Linked DNA regions of Homo sapiens. The protein of the gene in region 1 purifies or fractionates together with the protein of each later gene. This does not show direct contact. Each region holds a gene or a part of one and is shown in the gene's direction. Other genes may lie near its edges.

Region 1 (3,500 bases):
TTTTCTATGTTTATTAGTTGCTATTCTGTAAGGGAGGGCTTTCTTTTCTATTAGTTGTTCATTTATTTATGTTAGCGTAGATTTATAGATGCTTGTTTAATTTTGTGAATATTCTGTTACTACTTATTTTGATGCTCAGAAAGTGTATGAGATTTGATCTAGTGTACAGTTGAGGGTTTTAAGTACATTCATGTTGTGGAGTCATCACCATCTTCAGAACTTTCTCATCATCACAAATTGAAACTCTGTAACCATTAAACAATCATTCCTCTTTTTTTTTTTTTTTGAGGCAGAGTCTCGCTCTGTCGCCCAGGCTGCAGTGCAGTGGTGTGATCTTGGCTCACTGCAGCCTCCGCCTCCCATGTTCAAGCAATTCTCCTGCCTCGGTCTCCCAAGTAGCTGGGATTACAGGTGCACACCACCATGCCTGGGTAATTTTTATATTTTTAGTAGAGATGGGGTTTCTCCATGTTGCCCCGGCTGGTCTCGAACTCCTGACCTCAAATGAGCTACCTGCCTCATTAGTCTCAGATTTTATCTTTTTTATAGAGAATTTATTTTCATTCTCTTTTTTTTGGTTAGCATTGTGGAGCATCGGAGGATGAGGACACTTAAGATCTGCTCTCTTAGTAAATTTCAAGCATGCAATATAGTATTCTTAACTATAGTCACATGCTGTACATGAGATCTCCAGAAACTTAATTTTGTTGCATAACTGAAGCTTTATACTCTTTGACCAACATCTCCCCGTGTCCCCCTCCACCAAACATTCTCTCATTTTTAATGATAATGCATCTAGCTGTGAATCCCCATGAGTTCTGACACATGGGTTTGTTGTTGTTGTTGTTGTTGTTGTTGTTTTCAGGTTTCTGTAATTTAGGTTTTTATTTCTCCTTTCACCCAGGAGTTTGTTGGAGTTTTTTTGTTTTGTTTTTGAGACAGGGTCACTCTGTCACCCAGGCTGGAGTGCAGTGGCATGATCATGGCTCACTGCAGCCTCAACCTCCTGGGCTCAAGTGATCCTCCCACCTCAGCCTCCCGATTAGCTGGGACTACAGGCACGTACCACCACACTCAGGTAATTTTTTAATTTTTGTAGAGACGGGGTTTCATCATGTTGCCCAGGCTGGTCTTGAACCTCTGGGCTCAAGTGATCCACCCACTTTGGCCTCCTAAAGTGCTGGGATTACAGGTATAAGCCACCCCCGGCCCACCCATGAGTTTTTGGTTTATTAAATTTACAAATAAAACCAGTAATCTACTGTATTTTAGATCACAGAGGACAGAATTTCCTTTAGTGTATCGACACGTGCATTCATGGTGTGCTTTATCCTTAGCCTCAGTAGTTAGTGATTTGCCTACTAGCTGGGGTGAGCACCCAAGGAAGTAGGGCTTTTACCATGGCTGAGTGTGGATGAGTGGTATTCCATGGGGCATAAGACTGGCAGCGACAGCCATGGCCTTGGGACAGGTTTGTTAAACTCTGTTTTTGTTAAAAACAGGTGTTGAGAGAGAAAAGAATTCCTCCCTGGATGGAAGTGGTCCTTATACCCATGACAGGAAAACCAAGTCTGTACCCAGGATTGTTCCTTTTTACCACTCCTTGTAGACTGGTACGGCCTGTGCAGAACTTAGCATTGGGCAAAGAAGAGCTAATTGGAACTATGGAACAGGTAAATACATATGTGTGATGGATGAGTGTATGTGCTTGTTTGTATAGTATACAACTTTCAGAGACTTAACTCTTCCTTTTTTAAAAGGGTTGTTAATGTTACAACAACAGTTGGACATTTGAAAGAAAGTCAGACTTTCCACCTCCTCTATGATCAGCACAGAGCAATTTCCATGTCTGATCTCACTCCACAGAACCTGAGAGAGGGCTGGTGGTCACATTACCTGCCTCCCATCTTATCTAGCTCCCAGAACTCCTTTGTACCTGGCTCTGCCTCAGCCGTGAAGTGAAAACATTCCATTAGATTCACACTCAGTCTTTGCCTACATATTTACAGTTGCAAAATTATAGGCTTTGTGCTACTTAAAAATTTTTCTTCCTATTCCCCTTCACAATTGGTCTGGGGTAGTTTTAGAGTGAGATACGTAAAGCAAGTGGTATTTCTAACTGGTCGCTTCCCTGTGCTTCCCAGTTGATCCCTTCAGCACTCATGATGCTGGGTGGGGATGGTTTTCTCTTGAGTCTTTGAGTACTGAACTCTGAGAAATGGTAAGAGTAAATGTGTAACCAGTTGCAGTTATTTTGTGCCTTGGACATCTGCTCTTCCAGATCTTCATGAATGTCGCTATCTTTGAGGATGAAGTTTTTGCTGGAGTTACCACACACCAGGAACTCTTTCCACACAGCCTGCTGAGTGTGATTGCCAACTTCATCCCTTTCTCTGATCACAACCAGAGTCCACGGAACATGTACCAATGCCAGATGGGTAAGGAAGAGGGATGATGTTACAGTCACAATCAGGAAAGTAAACTTGATACTAGCACACTCTTTTATTGTCCTTATTTACATATGCTGACCATTTGTTCCAAAAATACAGTTTATGGCAAGTTTTTCTTTTTTCTGTGCCACAAGCAACCAGCCCAGGATCACTCATTGTATTTAGTTGGCATGTCTATTTAGTTTCCTGTAATTTATGACAGATCTTTAAACATTCTTTGTCTTTGACATTGACATTTTTGAAGAAAAAGGTATAGAATGTCCATAGATTTGGGTGTGCCTGAGGTCTTATTATTTGATTTTTTGAAGAATACAAGCAATTATAGTCACCCGCATATTTATCACTTCCAGTCCTCTTCATTCCTGCTGCAAGATTCAAGTTTTCATTGTATACAATTTTCCTTCAGCCTGATAATCTTCCTTTAGCATTTTTTTATAGTGCAGGTTGCTGGCCACAAATTCTCTTTGTTTTCATTTATCTGAAAATGTCTTTATTTTGCTTCACTTGAAGGAATCTTTCACTGGATATACAATTCTGAGTTGACAGTTATTTTTCTTCCAACACTTAAAAGTTGTTGTTACACTGTCTCTTCTTAGTCTCTGTCATTTCTAGTTAGAAGGCAGCAGTCTTCTGAATATAGTGTGTTTCTTTTTTTTTTTTTTTGAGACAGAGTCTCGCTCTGTCGCCTAGGCTGGAGTGCAGTGGTGTGATCTCGGCTTACTGCAACCTCTGTCTCCTGGGTTCAAGTGATTCTCCTGCTTCAGCCTTCCAAGTAGCTGGGTCTACAGGGACTCACCACCACACCCAGCTAATTTTTGTATTTTTAGTAGAGACGGGGTTTCACCATGTTGGCAAGGCTGGTCTCGAACTCCTGACCTCAGGTGACCTGCCCACTTTGGCCTCCCAAAGTGCTGTATTACAGGCGTGAGCCACTGCGCCCGGCCTCAAATTTTGTTTTTTTTCAGTTTAATTAAATTGCTAAACTCTTCTGTCATTATTTTTAAAAACATTGCTCCTATCCTTTTCTCTCTTTCCTCCTCTTCTATCAGT
Region 2 (3,500 bases), on another chromosome or scaffold:
CATTATCCTTTTTTTTATTTTAGACAGAATTTCACTCTTGTCGCCCAGGCTGGAGTGCAGTGGCCCAATCTCAGCTCACTGCAACCTCAGCCTCCCAAGTAGCTAGGATTACAGGTGCCCACCACCACATCCAGCTAATTTTTGTATTTTTAGTAGAGACGGAGTTTTGCTATGTTGGCCAGGCTGGTCTCGAACTCCTGACCTCAGGCAGTCCACCCACCTCAGCCTCCCAAAGTGCTAGGATTACAGGCGTGAGCCACTGCGCCCCTCCTATTTTTTTTATATTTATCATCTATGAGCTGACATCTGAAGAATTATAAAATGTGAAAGCTGAAAGAGACTAAGTATTATCTAGTCTAATCCCTTACTTTTCAGGTAAGGAAACTAAGGCTCAGTAAGGTGAAAAGATCTGCTTATGGTCACATACCTATCTGTCTATTCAGTATGAGCCAAGACTGAAGGCCAGATTTCTTGACTGGAGTTCAGTATTCTTTCACCTACACCATGACACCCTAGGGGCTGCATTAGTCCCAGCTTTTAATACAGGTTTATATATGTTGAGTTTTATTAATTTCAGTGTTAACCAAAGCTGAAGACAGTAGGAAGGGTCCATTTATTATCAAAAAATATGGCCAGGTGCAGTTGCTCACGCCTGTAATCCCGGCACTTTGGGAGGCTGAGGCGGGCAGATCACCTAAGGTCAGCAGTTCAAGACCAGCCTGGCCAACCAGGTGAAATAACATCTCTACTAAAAATATGAAAATTAGCCAGGTGTGGTGACACACACCTGTAGTGTGCTGAGATCGCAGTAAGCCGGAATCACGCTACTGCACTCCAGCCTGGACGACAGAGCAAGACTCAGTCCAAAAAAAAAAAAAAAAAAAAAAATTTTTTTATGACGCTTCAAGAACATAGTGAAACCCTGTCTCTACAACGGAATTAAAAATTAGCGCCGGGCGCGGTGGCTCACGCCTGTAATCCCAGCACTTTGGGAGGCTGAGGCAGGCGGATCATGAGTTCAGGAGATCGATACCATCCTGGCTAACACAGTGAAACCCCGACTCTACTAAAAATACAAAAAATTAGCCGGGCGTGGTGGCGGGCACCTGTAGTCTTGGCTACTTGGAAGGCTGAGGCAGGAGAATGGTGTGAACCCAGGAGGTGGAGGTTGCAGTGAGCCAAGATTGCCCCACTACACTCCAGCCTGGGCAAAAGAGCAAGACTCTGTCTCAAAAAAAAAAAAAAAAAAAAAATTAGCTGGGCATAGTGGTGCATGCCTGTAGTTCCAGCTACTCAGGGGGCTAAGGCAGGAGGATCACTTGAGCCCAGGAGTTCAAGGCTGCAGTACGCTGTGGTCACCCCACTGTACTCCAACCTAAGTGATGAGACCCTGCCTCAAAAAAAAAAAAAAAAAAATTTCTGAGACATGAATATATCTTTTTTTGTCCTAATGTTTTATAGAGGCTTCATTATTTATTATTTTATTTATTATTTTATTAGAGTCTTAGATGTAGTATTTTTGTTTTCACCTACCTATAATCTCTCTCATTTGACCCTTTCTGTTCAGCTTTACTAATTATGTTTTGTGCATGACACTGCCTGTTTCTAACCTTTTTTCATAAATCTTTCCTACTCTCTACTCTCTTATGCTCCAGATACCAATGAAATCCTTTTTAAGTACCGTAGTATAATTATGAAATGAATTACAAATACCAGGGCAATATATTCAGTGTAGTGATTTACTCTATATCAGTAGTCTCAACCAAAGGCCTCCAGGGAGGACACTTGGCAATATTTGGAGACCTTTTTAGTTGTCTCAACTGGGGTAATGGTAGGGGTGCTACTGCCTCTAGTGAGTAGAGGCCAGGAGGATGCTCCTAAATATCCTACAATGTGTGAGACAGCCCCAACAATAAAGAATTATCTAGCCCAAAGTGTCAGTAGTGCTGAGGTTGAGAAACCCTGCTCTCTATCAAAGGAGTGGTGTAAAACAGTTTCCTAAACTGTTATGTAAGTGGATCATTCAAGCATATTATAGTGAACTTTGTCTGGAGGTGCAGAAGAATTTTGTTACACAGAACTAAATAGTATTAAGTAATAATCCACAGCCCCTATCTATTGGCATCAGCAATAAAGAATTGATGATGACTGCAGCACATGTTGTACTACTAATATCAGGGACAATTTGAGAGTTTGACATGTTTATGCTTTCTCCCTTTTTATTTTTATTTGTTTGTTTGTTTTTGAGACGGGGACTTGCTCTGTTGCCCAGGCTGGAGTGCAGTGGTGTGATCTCGGCTCACTGCAACCTCTGCCTCTCGGGTTCAAGTGATTCTCTTGCCTCAGCCTCTCGAGTAGCTGGTATTACAGGCTCACACCACCATGCCCGGCTAATTTTTGTATTTTTAGTAGACACGGGGTTTCGCCATGTTGGCCAGGCTGGTCTCGAACTCCTGACCTCACGTGATCCACCTGCCTCGACCTCCCAAAGTGCTGGGATTACAGGTGTGAACCACCGTGCCTGGCCGATGTGAAATTTCTGATGAGGCAAAATTTGAACAGAACTAGGTTCCTTATGGAATGTGGAATTCTCTTTGACTTTTAAAAGGATTGTATCTAGCAAGTTAAATAGATGTATTTCCTCGAAGACTGTTAATGAAATCCCAGAACTTTGTTCTGATTGTGTCATCCACAGCCCTAGGTATTGACAGATTTATAACACAAAAGAGAGACTTCAGGCCCGGTGTGGTGGGTCACACCTGTAATTCCAGCACTTTGGGGACGGGTGGATCACCTGAGGTCAGGAGTTCAAGACCAGCCTGGCCAACAGGGTAAACCTGTCTTTCCAAAAAAAAATACAAAAAAATTAGCTGGGCGTGGTGGCTCACAGCTGTAACCCCAACTACTTGGGAGGCTGAGGTAGGAGAATCGCTTGAACCCGGAAGGCAGAGGTTGCAGTGAGCCAGCCTGGGCGACGAGCAAAACTCTGTCTCAAAAAAAGAGAAACTTCAGTGGGCAAAGGAGCAGAGTATGACTTGTTATGATTAAAGAGCAAACTTTTGGCTGGGCGCAGTGGCTCATGCCTGTAATCCTAACACTTTGGGAGGCCACGATGGGAGGATCACTTGAGGCCAGGAGTTTGAGACCAGCCTGGTCAATATAGCAAAACCCCTATCTCTATTGTTTTTAAGAATTTTTAAAAATAATTAAAAAAAAAAAAGATTGGAGAACAGTAATATTTAGTGGTGAGAGACAATTTTACCTATTACCAGAAATCTGAGTAGTATATCTATCTTAAAAAGATGTTCTTTTGAAGAAGTTATCCCAAAATATCTGAAAAATATGCTGAAATATCTTCTAAAAATCATATTACATTATTATATATCACATTCTAGTGTTTGAGGACTTCTGGGTTTTGTGAGAACAGTGATTACTAAGAATTAAATCAGGCTGGGCATGGTGGCTCACGCCTGTAATCTCAGCACTTTGGGAGGCTGAAG
Region 3 (2,281 bases), on another chromosome or scaffold:
AGCAGAGGTAGGGGTCCTGAGATACTGAGAGACTACTGGACGGGACTTGCAGCAGAAATGATTGTCTCCTACACAGTAGGAGCAGGAAGATATGTTGCCCACTAACTTGGGGGCTTCTGAACATCGTCCTAGTTCACTCACTCTCAGCAGTGGCAGGAGGAATATGAAGAAAGCAGTATTAATGGTGTTTTGGATAATTTTTATTCTCACCAATTGTGAGAATCACAATCTCTAAGTGAGATTAATTTTTCTTTGCCTTAAAATATTTTATTTTCCTTTAAGTTTAGTATTTTAAAAAGGAGGTGAGGGCTACCTTGAAGGTAGAACATCAAATACAGTCTAGGCTCCAAGATTCTGACTCCAGATAAAAAAGTTACTGATCAGGCACCTGCAATTCCAGCTATTCGGGAGCCTGAGGCAGAAGAATCACTTGAACCTGGGAGGTGGAGGTTGCAGTGAGCAGAGATGGCACCATTGTACTCCAGCCTGGGCAACAAGAGCGAGACACCATCTCAAAATAAATAAATAAATAAAAAGTTACTGATACAGCCTGGCGCGGTGGCTCACGCCTGTAATCCCAGCACTTTGGGAGATTGAGGTGGGTGGATCACAAGGTGAGGAGTTCGAGACCAGCCTGGCCAACATGGTGAAACCCGGTCTCTACTAAAAATACAAAAATTAGCCGGGCGTGGTGGCATGTGCCTGTAATCCCAGCTACTCAGGAGGCTGAGGCAGGAGAACTGCTTGAACCCGGGAGGCAGAGGTTGCAGTCAGCTGAGATCACACCATTGCATTCCAGCCTGGGTGACAGGAACGATACTCAAACTCAAAAAAAAAGAAAAAAAAAAAGTTACTGATAGGACTAGATCGTATCTTTTAGGTGCATTGAGGCAGCGAAAATTTTTGAGAACTGGTGGTTTAGAGAAGTAGAAGCTGCCATAGGTTTAAGAGTTGCACTAATACAGCTTTTCACAGGCCTCTATCACCTCTGGTTTCTCAAAATGGTTTTGCTTTTCATTTTTTAACCCTTATGGCAGCGGACAAACATAAATTGCAGAGATTCCTGACTGCTGACATGGCCCTGGTGGCGACAGTCTATGCGCCAATCACTTTTCCTCCTGCATCTGTGCTGCTTTTCAAGCAAAAAAGCAATGGTAAGTTGAGCCACAGAGATGAACAGACCCTGCAGGTCCTTAATAGATGAACACCGTTTTCTCTTGTTTATTTAAATTTGGGAGCCAAATGGTATGGAGAAGGTAATGATGGTTTTCAAAATACAGTAAGTCTTCATTTAACATTGTTAATAGAACAATGAAAACTCCAACTTTTACGTGAAACAGTGTATAGCCAGTCCTCAAATAACTGCCTTTTGTTCAACATCCTTTCCTTGTAACAACTGATGAGAAAAAGTATGGTTTTGTTATACATCATTTCTCTTGAAGTACAAGTTTTCAAGAACCTATTGACAAGGTTAAGTGTGGGCTTACAGTTTACCAATCTTAGCCTCAGATTGGGCTAGGGCAGGGATGACAAACCAGGCTCTTGCATGGGTCTTTAAATGGACTGGGCAATAAATGAAGACTTTGGCCTGTAAATTCCTAAATAGCTTCTTTGCTTTTGTCCTTTAGGAATGCACAGCCTCATTGCTACAGGCCATCTTATGTCAGTAGATCCAGACAGAATGGTCATCAAGAGAGTTGTTCTGAGTGGTCATCCTTTCAAAATTTTTACTAAGATGGCAGTAGTACGTTACATGTTCTTCAACAGAGGTGGGTATGAAGGAGGAGGATGGGATCTGATTGCCTTTGTGGTATAAAGGTTGGGTTTACATTTTGTGGGTAAATGTTTCATCTTGGTCTTTAATGTGTTTGATTCTAAGAGGATGTGCTGTGGTTTAAACCAGTGGAACTGAGAACGAAGTGGGGCCGGAGAGGACATATCAAGGAACCTTTAGGTAAGGAAACACGGGATTTGAGACCATGTCTGCATTTCTGCAGTGTTGCTAAATGACTGTTGGGTTGGAAGTCATTGCTTTAAAATTTTCTACTTTTAATTTGACCGACTTGTTCTGATGTCTTTCTAGGTACCCATGGCCACATGAAATGCAGCTTTGATGGGAAGCTAAAATCTCAAGACACAGTACTGATGAACCTGTATAAACGAGTCTTCCCCAAATGGACTTATGATCCATATGTACCAGAACCAGTACCCTGGCTGAAAAGTGAGATTTCTTCAACAGTGCCTCAAGGGGGCATGGAGTAATGGATTCAAAGAGATTCTG
Region 4 (3,500 bases), on another chromosome or scaffold:
GGCCCTCAGAGACCTTCTGGTGCCAACCTCTGTAGTTTCTGTACAAGGCATCTGATGCCCAGAATGGTCAGGTGGCCACAGTTCTCTCAGCTGGTCAGTCACAGAGCCAGGGCCAGCACCTGGGCAGGGGGACCCCCACTGTACCCAATCCCACCCAGCTATCCCACCCCCACTTATTTACATGGTAGATGTGGCACCCATGGGTCTGAGCAGGTCTGGGCTCCCCCACAGCCAGTGTCAGATGGCAGCGGTTAGCACTGGCTTCCCTGGCCTGCTGCCCTGATCAGGCCCCACTCTCTTGACCTTGGTGGGCACTGTACCTCCATCCAGCTGGGATCTGCCCATGTGCCCCTGCAAGCTGCTTATGTCCAGAGGGAAACACTGCCCATCAGTGGTGCCAGGCCAGGTCTTTCCTCACCTGTGGACTGAGGGGAAGGGGCTAATGGTGGCCAGGTCTTTCCTCACCTGTGGACTGAGGGGAAGGGGCTAAGGGTGCCAGAGAGCAAGAGGAAGGAAGGTACAGGAAGCTGACACAGTGGGAGGTCCAGCCCCTGGCTACCTAGGGTGCCTGAAGTTCACCATCGCTAGATGCAGGCCTTAGGCATGTAGGTGAGCCAGTCTAGTTGAAGTAGGATGAGGCCCTGGCTGTGCCTTGCTGGGCGGCCCTTGGCCTTGTGCTTTCAGGGTGGTGCCTGCTCTGTCCCAGGAGACTCTGACTGGGCCCTGGGCCTCCCTCGGCTGGTCCTGTGGTGCATCAGCACCTGGGCCCAGTGCTGGGTGGGATGGGCCTGCCACTAGGGTGGACAGAACACGGTGGTCTCCCCCAAAGTAGTGGAATCACCTCCTCCCATGGGGCATCCATCCCCAGCAGCTGTCCACACAGTGCTGAGTGGGAATCCATGCCCATCGGGCCTTGAAGGCAGGATGGATGGACAGCCAAACCTTGCCGTCTCTTCTAGAAGGCTAGCTCCCTGGCTGTGGGTCCAAGCGGATCAGCAGCAGCTGTACTGGGACATGACTGGGCTTTGACTGGCTTAAAGAGCACGGAGTGCTGGCAACCCCACTGTCGGGGGCTCAGGCTCCTAGCAGGAGGGGTCTGCCCTGAGGCTTTCAACAAGGGCCTCAGTTCCTCACAGGAGCCTGATGAGGTCCCCTGGGTTTAGTGCAGGTGCCAGCACAACATCTGGCCCATCCACGGTGTCACATGTGGTGGGCTTCCATCGCCCACCCTCCGCTCCAGGTCTCCGTCCACAGGTTTTCTCCTCTGGGAGAAAATCCACTGGTTTTCTCGTCTGGAATTCTCTGTCACTGCAGCCCCTTCCCCTCCCTTTCTCCTTGTCTTAGGTTCTTCCTGGGTGCTCCACCCTGGCCCTCTTCTTTTCCTGCCCCTGTACCTAGACCTGCCCTCAAGTGGGGGACTGAGGAGCAACCCCTTCCTCTCCCTTCCTCAGACCCAGAGCTTGGACCCTTAGCTCCGGGGGGGCCGCTGGGGCCTGCTCAGGGCTCCATCAGCCTTAGGCCAGCCCCAAGATGCTGATTGAAGATGAAGGTGATAAAGTGTGTGTCACTCGTTTGTCTAGCCTGATTTATTAGCAGTGTTTGGAGTATAATTATTCTATAGTAAAATATCTATGAGAGAGTAATATCCCAATTGGTGTGGCTCCTGGGTCTAATTGCTCCCACTCAGGCCTGTCAACAGCGGTGCAGCAGTCACTTCCTTTGAGAACTGGGAGGGAGGGTCTGTGAGGAGCAAGTAAACATATGGCCTCAATGACTCATGCCTCCGAAGGGCTGAGGGAGGGGCCAGGAGACATGCCTGGCCTATGTCCTTCCACCAACCTGGGGCCACCAGCATTTTCCTGCTCAGTCCAGGGAGGCTGGAAGTGGAAGCACAAGAACTGTAGGCAGTCCACAGAAGCTGAGTCCAAATCCCATATAGACAACCCTGAGCAGAGACAGGCTTCCTCCAACCAGGGACAGCCTCACAGGGTGACTGTGGATGTGTGCAGAGGTGAGATCCTATGAGCCCAGGGCTTTGGTCGAGGAAGAAGGCCTTCCTGAGGCTCCACAAGGGAGGAAAGGGCATGGGTGCCCAGGCTAGGAGCAGCTCCCCCAACTCGCAACCCCCTGAGGCTCTAGCTGAATGGGCACCTGCCTTAATGCTAGGGGCTGGCTGTAGGCTGGGGCTTCTGTGCCACATGCTCTCCTCTGGGCCCCAGGGCAGGAATGAGCCTGCCTCCTGCCTCCCTCCACTCTGTCACCACTCTACTGATTAAGCATATACTATGCGCCTTTACTAGCTACATACTTTATTTTGAAACCGTTTAATAACCCTGAGGAAGAGGTCATTATTTTTCCTATGTACATTTTTCCCCAATTAAATCAATCAAATTATGTGCAAATATTTAGGAAAAGTAATATATGCACATGGTAAAAAATTTCAAACAAGACAATAATTATTCAGTGTAAGGAAGTTTTCTTCCTACGAACCCAGGTCCCCTCCCCAAAGGCAGCCAGACTGGAAACCAGCCCAAGAAATGTGAAGTGACCTGCCCAAGGTCACAGGGTAGTAAAGCTGGAGTTTGAACTCAGGACTAGCTGGTCTCTTTTGAGTCATGAAATTTCCACTTTGTCAGACAGATTCTTGCCCAGTGTGTCAAAAGAGTCTGCGTTCTCTTGAAAAGCTCGAATCTCCTTGGTGGGAGACTTTCCTTCCTGGTAAGGTGGAACTTGGAGATCATACAGAGTAGGCTCAAGCCCTTGCTGTACCCAAAACAGCTGTACGCCTTGGGCAGCCATTTAATCTCAATTGTTCATTCCTTCGAAGGATGGTCTTGACCTCATCAGGTTGTTTTGAAAGAGCCACCATAGCTTGTGGCTTCATATGTAAGAGCCGACTCTCATCAGGTGAAGCAAGAAGGTAGTGTTCCTGTTGCAGCTCCTGAGTGATTGGCTGAGTTTGTTCCAAAGGGGCAGCCCTGTTTGCTTTGAGTAGGCCCCAGATCACCCAGAGATTTTCAGGTCATCTTGCTTGACCAGGGGCTCAGCCATCCGACAGACTGGTCCAATGTGCAAGCCTGGGCTTTATTTACTCCCAGCCTTACCACCTGCTAGTGTGAAAAGTTGAGCAGACCATGAGACTTCCATGTTAAGTGGGAATTTTCACAGTGCTGCACCAGGGTTAGATGAAGGTGAGATGGGGGATTGCACATAAGGTTCTGAGATCAGTGCTTGTCTCCTACTGCATCGTTATTGTTTTATCATTATTAATGTTTAAGCTCTTAGAGTCAAAATAATAATGCCTGGAGCGTGGGTCCACTCTTTTCCCTGGGACTCCATTATTTCTCTTTGAAGCACAGGAGCCAATCCCCCTGGTCCCTATCAGGAGCCACACAGTTTTGGTTGAAGAGGGAGGGGCTGAGAGTCTGGTAGGCTCATGGGTGTGGTTATCCAGCGCAGGGGCCAGAGAAGTGCCCTATGCTCTTCTTTCCCCACCGTGC

The links. Proteins that work in one complex are often made in the same cells at the same time.
Region 2: the proteins of POLR1B (region 1) and RPRD2 purify together in Homo sapiens (affinity purification with mass spectrometry, with the first as the bait; one large-scale study listed by BioGRID). This does not show direct contact.
Region 3: the proteins of POLR1B (region 1) and TSR1 fractionate together in Homo sapiens (co-fractionation; 2 studies listed by BioGRID). This does not show direct contact.
Region 4: the proteins of POLR1B (region 1) and EEFSEC fractionate together in Homo sapiens (co-fractionation; one large-scale study listed by BioGRID). This does not show direct contact.

What each region holds. Positions count from the first base shown.
Region 1 is NC_000002.12:112,566,465-112,569,964, forward strand, and holds part of POLR1B (DNA-directed RNA polymerase I subunit RPA2), read left to right. Parts: intron 1-293; coding exon of another isoform or gene 294-431; intron 432-1,502; coding exon 1,503-1,673; intron 1,674-2,281; coding exon 2,282-2,438; intron 2,439-3,500. UniProt on the Homo sapiens protein: Catalytic core component of RNA polymerase I (Pol I), a DNA-dependent RNA polymerase which synthesizes ribosomal RNA precursors using the four ribonucleoside triphosphates as substrates.
Region 2 is NC_000001.11:150,465,147-150,468,646, forward strand, and holds part of RPRD2 (regulation of nuclear pre-mRNA domain-containing protein 2), read left to right. Parts: intron 1-3,500.
Region 3 is NC_000017.11:2,324,177-2,326,457, reverse strand, and holds part of TSR1 (pre-rRNA-processing protein TSR1 homolog), read left to right. Parts: intron 1-1,037; coding exon 1,038-1,154; intron 1,155-1,193; exon of another isoform or gene 1,194-1,628; coding exon 1,629-1,769; exon of another isoform or gene 1,770-1,879; coding exon 1,880-1,954; exon of another isoform or gene 1,955-2,083; coding exon 2,084-2,262; 3' UTR 2,263-2,281. UniProt on the Homo sapiens protein: Required during maturation of the 40S ribosomal subunit in the nucleolus.
Region 4 is NC_000003.12:128,341,981-128,345,480, forward strand, and holds part of EEFSEC (selenocysteine-specific elongation factor), read left to right. Parts: intron 1-3,500. UniProt on the Homo sapiens protein: Translation factor required for the incorporation of the rare amino acid selenocysteine encoded by UGA codons. Replaces the eRF1-eRF3-GTP ternary complex for the insertion of selenocysteine directed by the UGA codon.